Regions from separate parts of the Homo sapiens genome. Here regions 1 and 3 are each linked to region 2. The links come from fine-mapping of genetic effects on gene expression. A gene starts in region 2. Each other region holds a variant in brackets. All regions are shown on one strand. Distances are from middle to middle.

Evidence for each region. PIP is the estimated chance that this variant, and not a neighbour inherited with it, causes the effect. A credible set is the group of variants that fine-mapping cannot tell apart.
Region 1: its variant is the best candidate, but not a certain one, in a credible set for the expression of GIGYF2 in whole blood (TOPMed, PIP 0.60).
Region 3: its variant is the best candidate, but not a certain one, in a credible set for the expression of GIGYF2 in whole blood (TOPMed, PIP 0.77).

The regions. Positions count from the first base shown.
Region 1 is chr2:232,870,338-232,873,093 of GRCh38, reverse strand. It overlaps SNORC (secondary ossification center associated regulator of chondrocyte maturation), which reads right to left. Exons shown (of 3, transcript NM_001394206.1): 1 at 2,680-2,756. The coding sequence starts at 2,752. Among named protein-coding and RNA genes, the nearest start is that of SNORC, 1.5 kb to the right of the region's middle. RefSeq lists an enhancer at 135-900. The variant C/G (reference allele first, on the strand shown) is at 1,671.
Region 2 is chr2:232,695,876-232,698,631 of GRCh38, reverse strand. It overlaps GIGYF2 (GRB10 interacting GYF protein 2), which reads right to left and starts at 1,301. Exons shown (of 29, transcript NM_001103146.3): 1 at 1,240-1,301. RefSeq lists enhancers at 103-797, 798-1,494 and silencers at 999-1,328, 1,359-1,448.
Region 3 is chr2:232,862,562-232,865,317 of GRCh38, reverse strand. No RefSeq gene overlaps it. Among named protein-coding and RNA genes, the nearest start is that of SNORC, 6.3 kb to the left of the region's middle. The variant G/T (reference allele first, on the strand shown) is at 1,227.

The DNA of each region.
Region 1 (2,756 bases), 170 kb before region 2:
AAGCCCAGTTGCTATGGGTCTGCAGCCGCTGGCTGCCACAGGAATCCCTCACAGGCTGGCCCAGTACCCATCTGCACCCAAGCGGCCAGGGCCCCAGGAGCCACCAGCTCCCTGCCAACCTAGGCTGGTGCCCAAGTGGCAGACACATAGGCTCGGAATGACAGCCTGCACTCAGCCACCGATCCACCAGGAAAAGGGGTGCCGCTGCCAGGGAGGGGCCGAGGCACTTCTTATCCTCATCTATGTTTCTAGAATTTACTCCAGTAAGAAGGGAAAGCAAAGCTGAGAGGCAATTCCCATCTTCCCCCAAATCCATCCTTCTGGGAAGCTGGGAGCAGAGCAGTTTCCCAGCAGGAGTCCTGTCTGGGGAGGGGGGAGATGGGGCAGGAGCGAAGGTGTGGAGGACGGAACTCACGGCGTGCCAGGCGGACAGTGAATAGGCCAGGGTGACAGAAAGTGAGGTTGGCAAAGAGGTGGGGGCACGGAGGACCCCAAGAAAGTTCCATGGCGGTAATGAGGCCCAGACTCCACTGACCAGAATTAGCCATGTGGTGTGGCTACGCGCTCTGACCCAGGGAAGCAGGGGCTGGTGGCACTGCCACAAGCCTGGGCACCACGGGCTCTCTCCCAGCCCCACTGGCCCCAGCCGCCCTGCCTTTTGGTAAATAAGTGTGTTCTGACCACAGGGCCCTGAGGCCAGGCGCCTCTGCTCACAGACAGCCTTTGTGTGGGCCATGAAGGGCCTTTTCATCCCTGCCCTGGCCTCCTGCCCGCTCAGCCCGGCCTGCTCCCACCTCAGTAGCTGAGGCCACAGGCCCCCAACAGGGAGGGCCTGTGCCTCAGATGGGGCCTGGGCCTCAGCCCACAAGGCCGCTCCTTCCCTTCCTGTCTGCTACAGGACCCCAGCCCACAGAGCCCAGGGCCGTGTACACACCTGTCCAGAGCTCCCAGCCCAGGGGTGGGGTCAAACGCTCTCGCAAGAACAACAGCCAGAACCCCAGAGACTCCGGGGTTGGGAAGGCCTGGTCTGGCCCCTGCGGGGGGCCTGCCTACTCTTGGTAGGACACATGGAGGGAAGTGGGGCAGTGAGGCCAGGTGAGGTCCTGGCTGTCCCCAAGGCATCCTGTGGTGGCAGAGGAAGCCCACCCGCCTACAATGATTAGGGACAGTCTGGCCTGGGAACTCTGGCCGGCAGCCTGGGCCAGGAGGGTCAGCCACACAGGAGTAGGAACCTGGGCAGGAGCCACAGGCAGCCCAGGCCCAGCAGGCAGGAGCCAGGGCCTCCCCTTCGGCCCACACGGACCACCAGGCTGGAGAAGCAGCTTCTTCCCAGTGAGGGGGCTGCAAAGATCACAGCCCCAGGATCCAAGCCATGGAAGATGCCACCTTCCCCTTTAAGTCCCTTCCCCCCATCCTGGGAACACCGCATGGCTCGCCTAGGCTGGCGCCTCTTCCACCACAAGGGAGGCTGGCGCCCTCCCAGCTTGCGGGAGGAAGTAGAGTTCTGTTGAGACCACCCTGTGCCAGGGAGGGGCTCGGACCACAGAATCCACATTCGCGCTAACTGGATGTGGGGCCCATCCCAAAAGCTCCGCACGTCTGAACTCACGAGGCCTCACAGACCCCTGCAAGTGAGGCAGAGCGTGGCTGTGTCACCATCCTACAGATGA[C/G]GAGAAGGCACAGAGAGGTTAAGAAACCGCCCGGTCAAGACTGAGCACACCCTGGCCTCAAGCTTCTTCCTGGGCGTCCAGGGAGAAGCCAATAGTCTCCGGTGCTCCTCGCTGTCACCCAGACCTCCCAGGGTGTGGCCGAGGGGGCCTCCCCAGGCCTGTCGTCCCCCAGAAGCTCTCCCCAGGCCATGCTCTCATGACTGCGGTCCACCTTTCTCACAGATCCACGGGCGCCCTCCAGAAGACCCAGGCTGCAGGGTCCCTGAACCCCGCTACTGTGACACAGAAGCCAGCTGCCCTTTGGTCCAACTCCCGGCCAAAAGGAGCAAAGACCACCTGTAACCCGTCTGCGCCCTTTGTCTCTCAGGCTCTGAAGCCAGCCTGGGCCAGTCTTCCCCTCTCCACAGGGCCCTTGGGAGCCTGCCAGAGGCCTCCCTCTCGTGGGACCCCAGACTCCGCCACTCTGATCTCAGTCCAGAGGTCCACACCGTTTTGCAGAGGGATCTTGGGCCTTGTATTCTCTCCCTCTCTGGAGCCTTTTCCCAGATGGGGACAGTACCTGGGTCCTCATTCTCTAAGGACGTCGCAGAAACCAGCAGGGAAGCTTTTCAAAGTAATCAGCAAGGCTCTGCACTCCTCTGGCCCCTCAGCTGCTTGTCCTGTGCCTGGTGCCCCAGCTGCCTCCCAGACCTGGGAGACTTCAGATTTTAAAGTGCTAGAGCAATACCCATGTCCCCCTCAACAGCAAAACATCCCTGGGCCTGCCCCCCAAGTTGTCCTCCTTCTCCAGAGGCCATTATCCCTCCTGCTAACAATTTCCTGAGACGTCCATCCCACACAGCTGCTGCCAGCCGGCCTCACAAGAGCTCTTCGCAGAATCACCCCAAATAGTCATCCCATCTCCTGTGAGAGGGCTTCCTCCCCAGTGAACGTTGAAGAATCTGGCCCCAAGGTAGTTATCGGCCCTGGGAGGCTAGTGGTGGCTGAGACAAGGGCCTTCACCTCTTACCTGTGAGCACCGCAGGGGCCAGAACCCCGGAGACCAGCAGCAGCGCCATGCGCAGGGCCAGACAGGATGCCATCCTG
Region 2 (2,756 bases):
CACCAACTAGTAAAACACGTAAAACCATCAATGAATAAGAGAAAGTATTTGTGTTCTAGGCAAAATGGACAAAATAAGGCCAAAGCTACAAATATTAGAAGGAGCAAAATTAATGTACAGAAAGAATGACAGAATTTTTTTTTCTAATCTAGGAAGTCATTTGATTCTAAAAAGGACATACTATATAAAGAAAGAATACCTTCCCCAGGCACAACATTGGGAATCAAAACTGCCTTAATTCAATGTATGTAGCTCTAGAAAGGAAGCTGTTCACAGCTTCTAGCCCCATACTCAATTTCTTGCAAGTTAAACTGGAATACTTACCTTTCTTACAGAGAGACTACGTGTGTTTAAGTGCTTTGACTTGCAGGAAAACGAAAACAACAAAATAAAAAACACAGTACTAAATAATTAACTGCAAAACAACGTTATTGCTTCCCAAACACGGTCATACGCTCCGCTTCTTTCATGCCCCCATTCCCTGTTCGCTTGATTTATGTTTCAGTCGCAAAACAAGTATTCAGAGTGCTTTTGGAAACTGACACTTAAGGATAATGCCCATTTCAACCTGATGTGAACATTTGGGTCCCCAAGGCTGCCATGGGCTCTAGTTTCCCAGCCTCGGTCCCAAGGTTCCGATCATGGTGGCTGCACCTCGCCTCAGGCCTGGTCCAGACCCAGTACTCTCGCCACGGAAGGAGTCTCCTCCGTCCAGATGCTCTGTGGGGAAGGCAGGAGCGCACCTCCCAGGGACCAGGTGTGGACAGGAGAGCCGGCAGGAGCAGCTGTCTGGCCGCAGCAGCTGTTACCGGGCCACCCCGAGACTGGGCGGGTGTCTGGCGCGGAGAAGCAAGCAGAGGAAGGCGAGCCCTCCAGCTCCGAGCAAGCCGGCCTGACACTGCCCACCCCACAACCCTCCTGCCTTGTTCGGCTCCCCTCGCAATGCCAAGAGGCCCTGGCCTAGGGGCTTCTCGGCTCCTCGCGGCCGTGACGCGCCAGGGCCCTCAGCGCCCCTCGCCCAGGAGGAGGCTCCCTCCGGCCCTGCACCTGACCTGTCCCGTCGCCTGACGGCCCAAGCCGGCCGGAGCGGCCTGTGGGTGTCCATGCGGCCGGGCCAGCTCGGGCAGGAGGAGCAGGGGCGCGAACGCGGACCGGAGACACAGGCGGCCCGGGACGCGGCGGCGGGGCCGGGGCGCGGAGCAGAGCCGGGCAGGGGAGCGACACGGAACGGCTGGTTACCTGCGGTCCGGGACAGGGAGTCTCAGAACCCCAGTCAGTCCTCAGCCTCAACAACACAAGATGGCCGACACGTCGCCACGCACGTCACGTGACCGCGCTCCCGCTCCGCCACGCCCCCTGCTCCGCCCCCGCCCCTTCCCGCTTCCCTCCCCACTCTCCAGTCTCCCACGACATCCTTCCTTTCCGCCACCACCCGCCCCTCTGCCCAGACACGCCCCTGCCCGAGACCCGGATGAAAGGTTGGAAGAGGGCGGGGCCGTGGCAGTGCGCAGGCTCCCGCTGACCCCTTGGCAGCAGCCGGGTACCTGCCCTTGAGTTGAGTGGTGTTGGTGTCCAGGGTTGGGCCCGGACCAGGCACCGTGTGACTCACTGTCCTGTACGCCCAGAGCTCTTTTGCAGTTCAAAAGCCTCTGCATCACTTGCGGGCTGGTTTTCCAAATTAGAACTTTTCCACAGCTTTTAGTCCGGCATTTTTCTTCGCAGTTGCCATCCTAGAGCGAATGGGAAAGCCGCAAAAGCTGAAATTCAAAGCAGTTTCTCTACTTGTTAACAGTTCTGGTAGAACTGGGAATTCATTTCAGAGTGTTGTACTGGGACAGCTGGAAAGGACTTGAGAGCTCTGATTCCTTCCTAGGACATCTGGGGCTATAACCCTTTTACCTAGAGATGAACTATTTTGGAATTGACAGATAAAATACAAGACACCCAGCAATATTTGGGGCACACACTGAAAAATTGTTCGTTGTTTTTCTGAAATTCAAATTTAATTGGGCGTCCTGTGTTTGCTAAATCTAGCAACTCTATCCTTAGGCATCCCATTCTTGCCTGTGTCTCCAACTTCTTCCTTCCTACAGGATCCTTCCTGTCAGCTTTAAAGATTACTTGTGTCTCCCATCTTAAAATGGAATGTTAAAAACTCCAATTCTCATGCCGGGCGCAGTGGCTCACACCTGTAATCTCAGCACTTTGGGAGGCGGAGGTGGGCGGATCACGAGGTCAGGAGATCGAGACCAGACCATCCTGGCTAACACGGTGAAATCCCGTCTCTACTAAAAATACAAAAAAAAATGTAGCCGGGCGTGGTGGCACGCACCTGCAGTCGCAGCTAGTCGGGAGGCTGAGGCAGGAGAATCGCTTGAACTGGGGAGGCAGACGTTGCAGTGAGCCGATATCGCGCCACTGCACTCCAGCCTGGCGACAGAGCAAGACTCCGTCTAAAACAAAAACAAAAACCTCCAATTCTCGGCCGGGCAGTGGCTCACGCCTGTAATCCCAGCACTTTGGGAGGCCGAGGCGGCGGATCACCTGAGGTTGGGAGTTTGAGACCAGCCTGACCAACATGGAGAAACCCCGTCTCTACTAAAAATACAAAATTAGCCGAGCGTGGTGGCGCATGCCTGTAATCCCAGCTACTTGGGTAGCTGAGGCAGGAGAATCGCTTGAACCCGGGATGCTGAGATTGCGGTGAGCCAAGATCGCGCCACTGCACGCCAGCCTGGGCAACAAGAGTGAAAATC
Region 3 (2,756 bases), 170 kb before region 2:
GGACTTCATATGTCTCCTGATGTGATGAACTAAGGACATAACATCACTCTGTAGTATTCCTGTCAAAATTGCATAATCACAAGCAAATCATGAGAAAATATCAGACAAATCCAAATGGAGGACATTCTAAAAAACAATTGCCCTCCACTCTAAAAAAAATGTTAAGGTGCAAAAGATTAAGACAGACTGAGGACCTGTTCCAGATTAAAGGAGACTCAAAAACATGACAACTAAACACAAAAAGTGATCATGAATGACATCCGGTGCCTTTTTGCTTTTATTAAAAATATTAGTGGCCTGGGTGCAGTGGCTCATGCCTATAATCCCAACACTTTGGGAGGCCAAGGTGTGAGAACTGCTTGAGGCCAGGAATTCGAGACCAACCTGGGCAACATGGTGAGACTCTGTCCCTACCAAAAATAGTAATAATTAGTTGGGTATGGTGGCATGTGCCCATAGTCCCAACTACTCAAGAGGCTGAGGCGAGGATGGCTGGAGCCCAGGAGTTCAAGGCTGCAATAAGCTATGATCAGGCCACTGCACTCCAGCTTGGGTGACAGATTGAGACCTTGTTTAAAAAAAAAATAATTAGTGGAACCATTGATGAAATATGAATGAAGCTTGGCTATTAACAGTATTGTATTGTTAATTTCCTAATTTTGATAACTGTATTGTGGTATATGGGAGCATGTCCTCATTTTGAGGAAACACACCAGGGTTCAGGAAAAAGGGACATGATGTATGCAACTTAGTCACAAATGGTTTACATTAAAAAAAAACTTATCATGAGATTATAGTTATTGAGAGAAAATAAAGCAGGTATGGTCCAATGTTAACTAAAGAACTTGGGTGAAGGTTATGTGCAAGTCCTTTGTACTGTTCTTGCAACTTAAAGTCAAATTATTTCAAAATAAAAGTAACCCTCCCCACCAAAAATCACAAATTTTCAACTAATTATATATCTAGGCAATTGTCATCAAGGAATGTTAAAACTGCTACATGTAAGAGCAAGAGGACTTTTATAATGGATGAATCAACCTGATAGCAACAGAACTGATGAATTGTGACATCAGTGAAACTGGAACAACCAGACAATACAGTGTGACTGTGATACAGCGGGAAGGACACCATGCCACCAGCAAAGGATTCCTGTGAGGGGTGGGGAAGGGAGAACCTGGTTTTAGTCAAGCCTGTAGATCTAATTCACAGAAAACATGGCGAGGTGG[G/T]GGGGGGATGAAGAAATTGACACCATTAAGACACTTCTTGCTAAATCCAGAGAATGTGGAATGTTCCATCAATAAATGATACAGTTTTTCAACTTTTTCTCTTTTTTGTAGGGAGAACTGTTAAGACTAAAGGAGACTTAAAGCATATCAACCAAATGCAATGAACATTGTTTTGATTTTCAAACTTTGTAAAAAGACACCTTTGAGACAATCTGAGAAAGTCATCTATGGACCTGATGTGTTGTTAATGTGACAAGGCATTGTGGGTTTTTCTTTTTCTAAGATGTCCTCTTTTATCATATATATTAAAATATTTATGAGTGACGTCATATCTAGGATTTGGTTTAAAATATTCTAAGAGAACAAAGTGGGATAAATACAACAAAATGGGCAAAATGTCAATAATTGTTGAAGCCAGGTTATATTAGGTAGGAGTCTGTTACATTAGTCTACTTCTATGTATGTTTGATTCTTTTTTATTTTTATTTTTATTATTTATTTATTTATTTATTTTAGCTTTCACATTTTCCATCACTCCCTAGAACATTTTCATTAAAAAGAAAAACTGGCCTTGGGAAAAAACTAATTGAAGATGACCACAACCCAGGGACCTCAGGACTGCTAATGACTCAGAGCGCTCACAAATGAAGGTTCAGGCCACCCAACAGATGAGGGGCTGGCAAAGGGGGAGTGGAACTTAGTAAAGGCTTTAAGCCAACACCCTCCACAACCAGGGACAGAAACAAGAACCGTGGCAGCGATGTGCATTTTATTCCTTCTTATATATACATACACGTTTGCAGATACGAACCAACTTTTCTCTACTTTCCCCTACTAATTTACATAAATACAATGTATTCCTTAAGATATCTAATAGTTAGGTGAGACTGAACTTGAAGTTAGTATCACCTAAAAATGGACTTAACAACTGATAGATGGGACGAGGGGACACAGTGTTAGTGGTTTCCCTACAGTTATTAACTAACCTTTCAGTAACTTTCCCCCATGTTGCTCCCAACACTTCAAACACCAATTCTTTTTCTTTTTCACGTTCATCTAGGGTGGTTTCTGTTTCACAACAGGACCCCGACCTGCTTAAGGCTCCATTTCATGTTACCAAAGTCAGAAAATCCAGGCAGATGACTGTCCCCCTAAGCAAGGCACACCAAGCTTGCCTTTCAACTTGGGTCTCCTTCAGTAAAGCTGCAAAGAGTTACTCGTCACACACCATCAAGAAGCCAAATGTCAGCAGTTTACTGCAGCACACATGCCTCACACTCACACACATACACTAGGCCGCTGGAGCTGAAATCTCAGAGCTAGGCTAGGCTGGTGGGTCCCCACTGAGGCTGTCCATTAAGAACTCTGGGGAATTTGAAAATAATTTCCAATGCACGGTCCCACCCCAGATTACAGACTCTGGGACATGGAGCTAAGGGATTGATTTTTGTTCCAAGTTCTTTAGGTGATCTGGGCCAACCACCTCATCTAACAGACAATGAAACTGAGGACCAGAGACATGACAGAAAA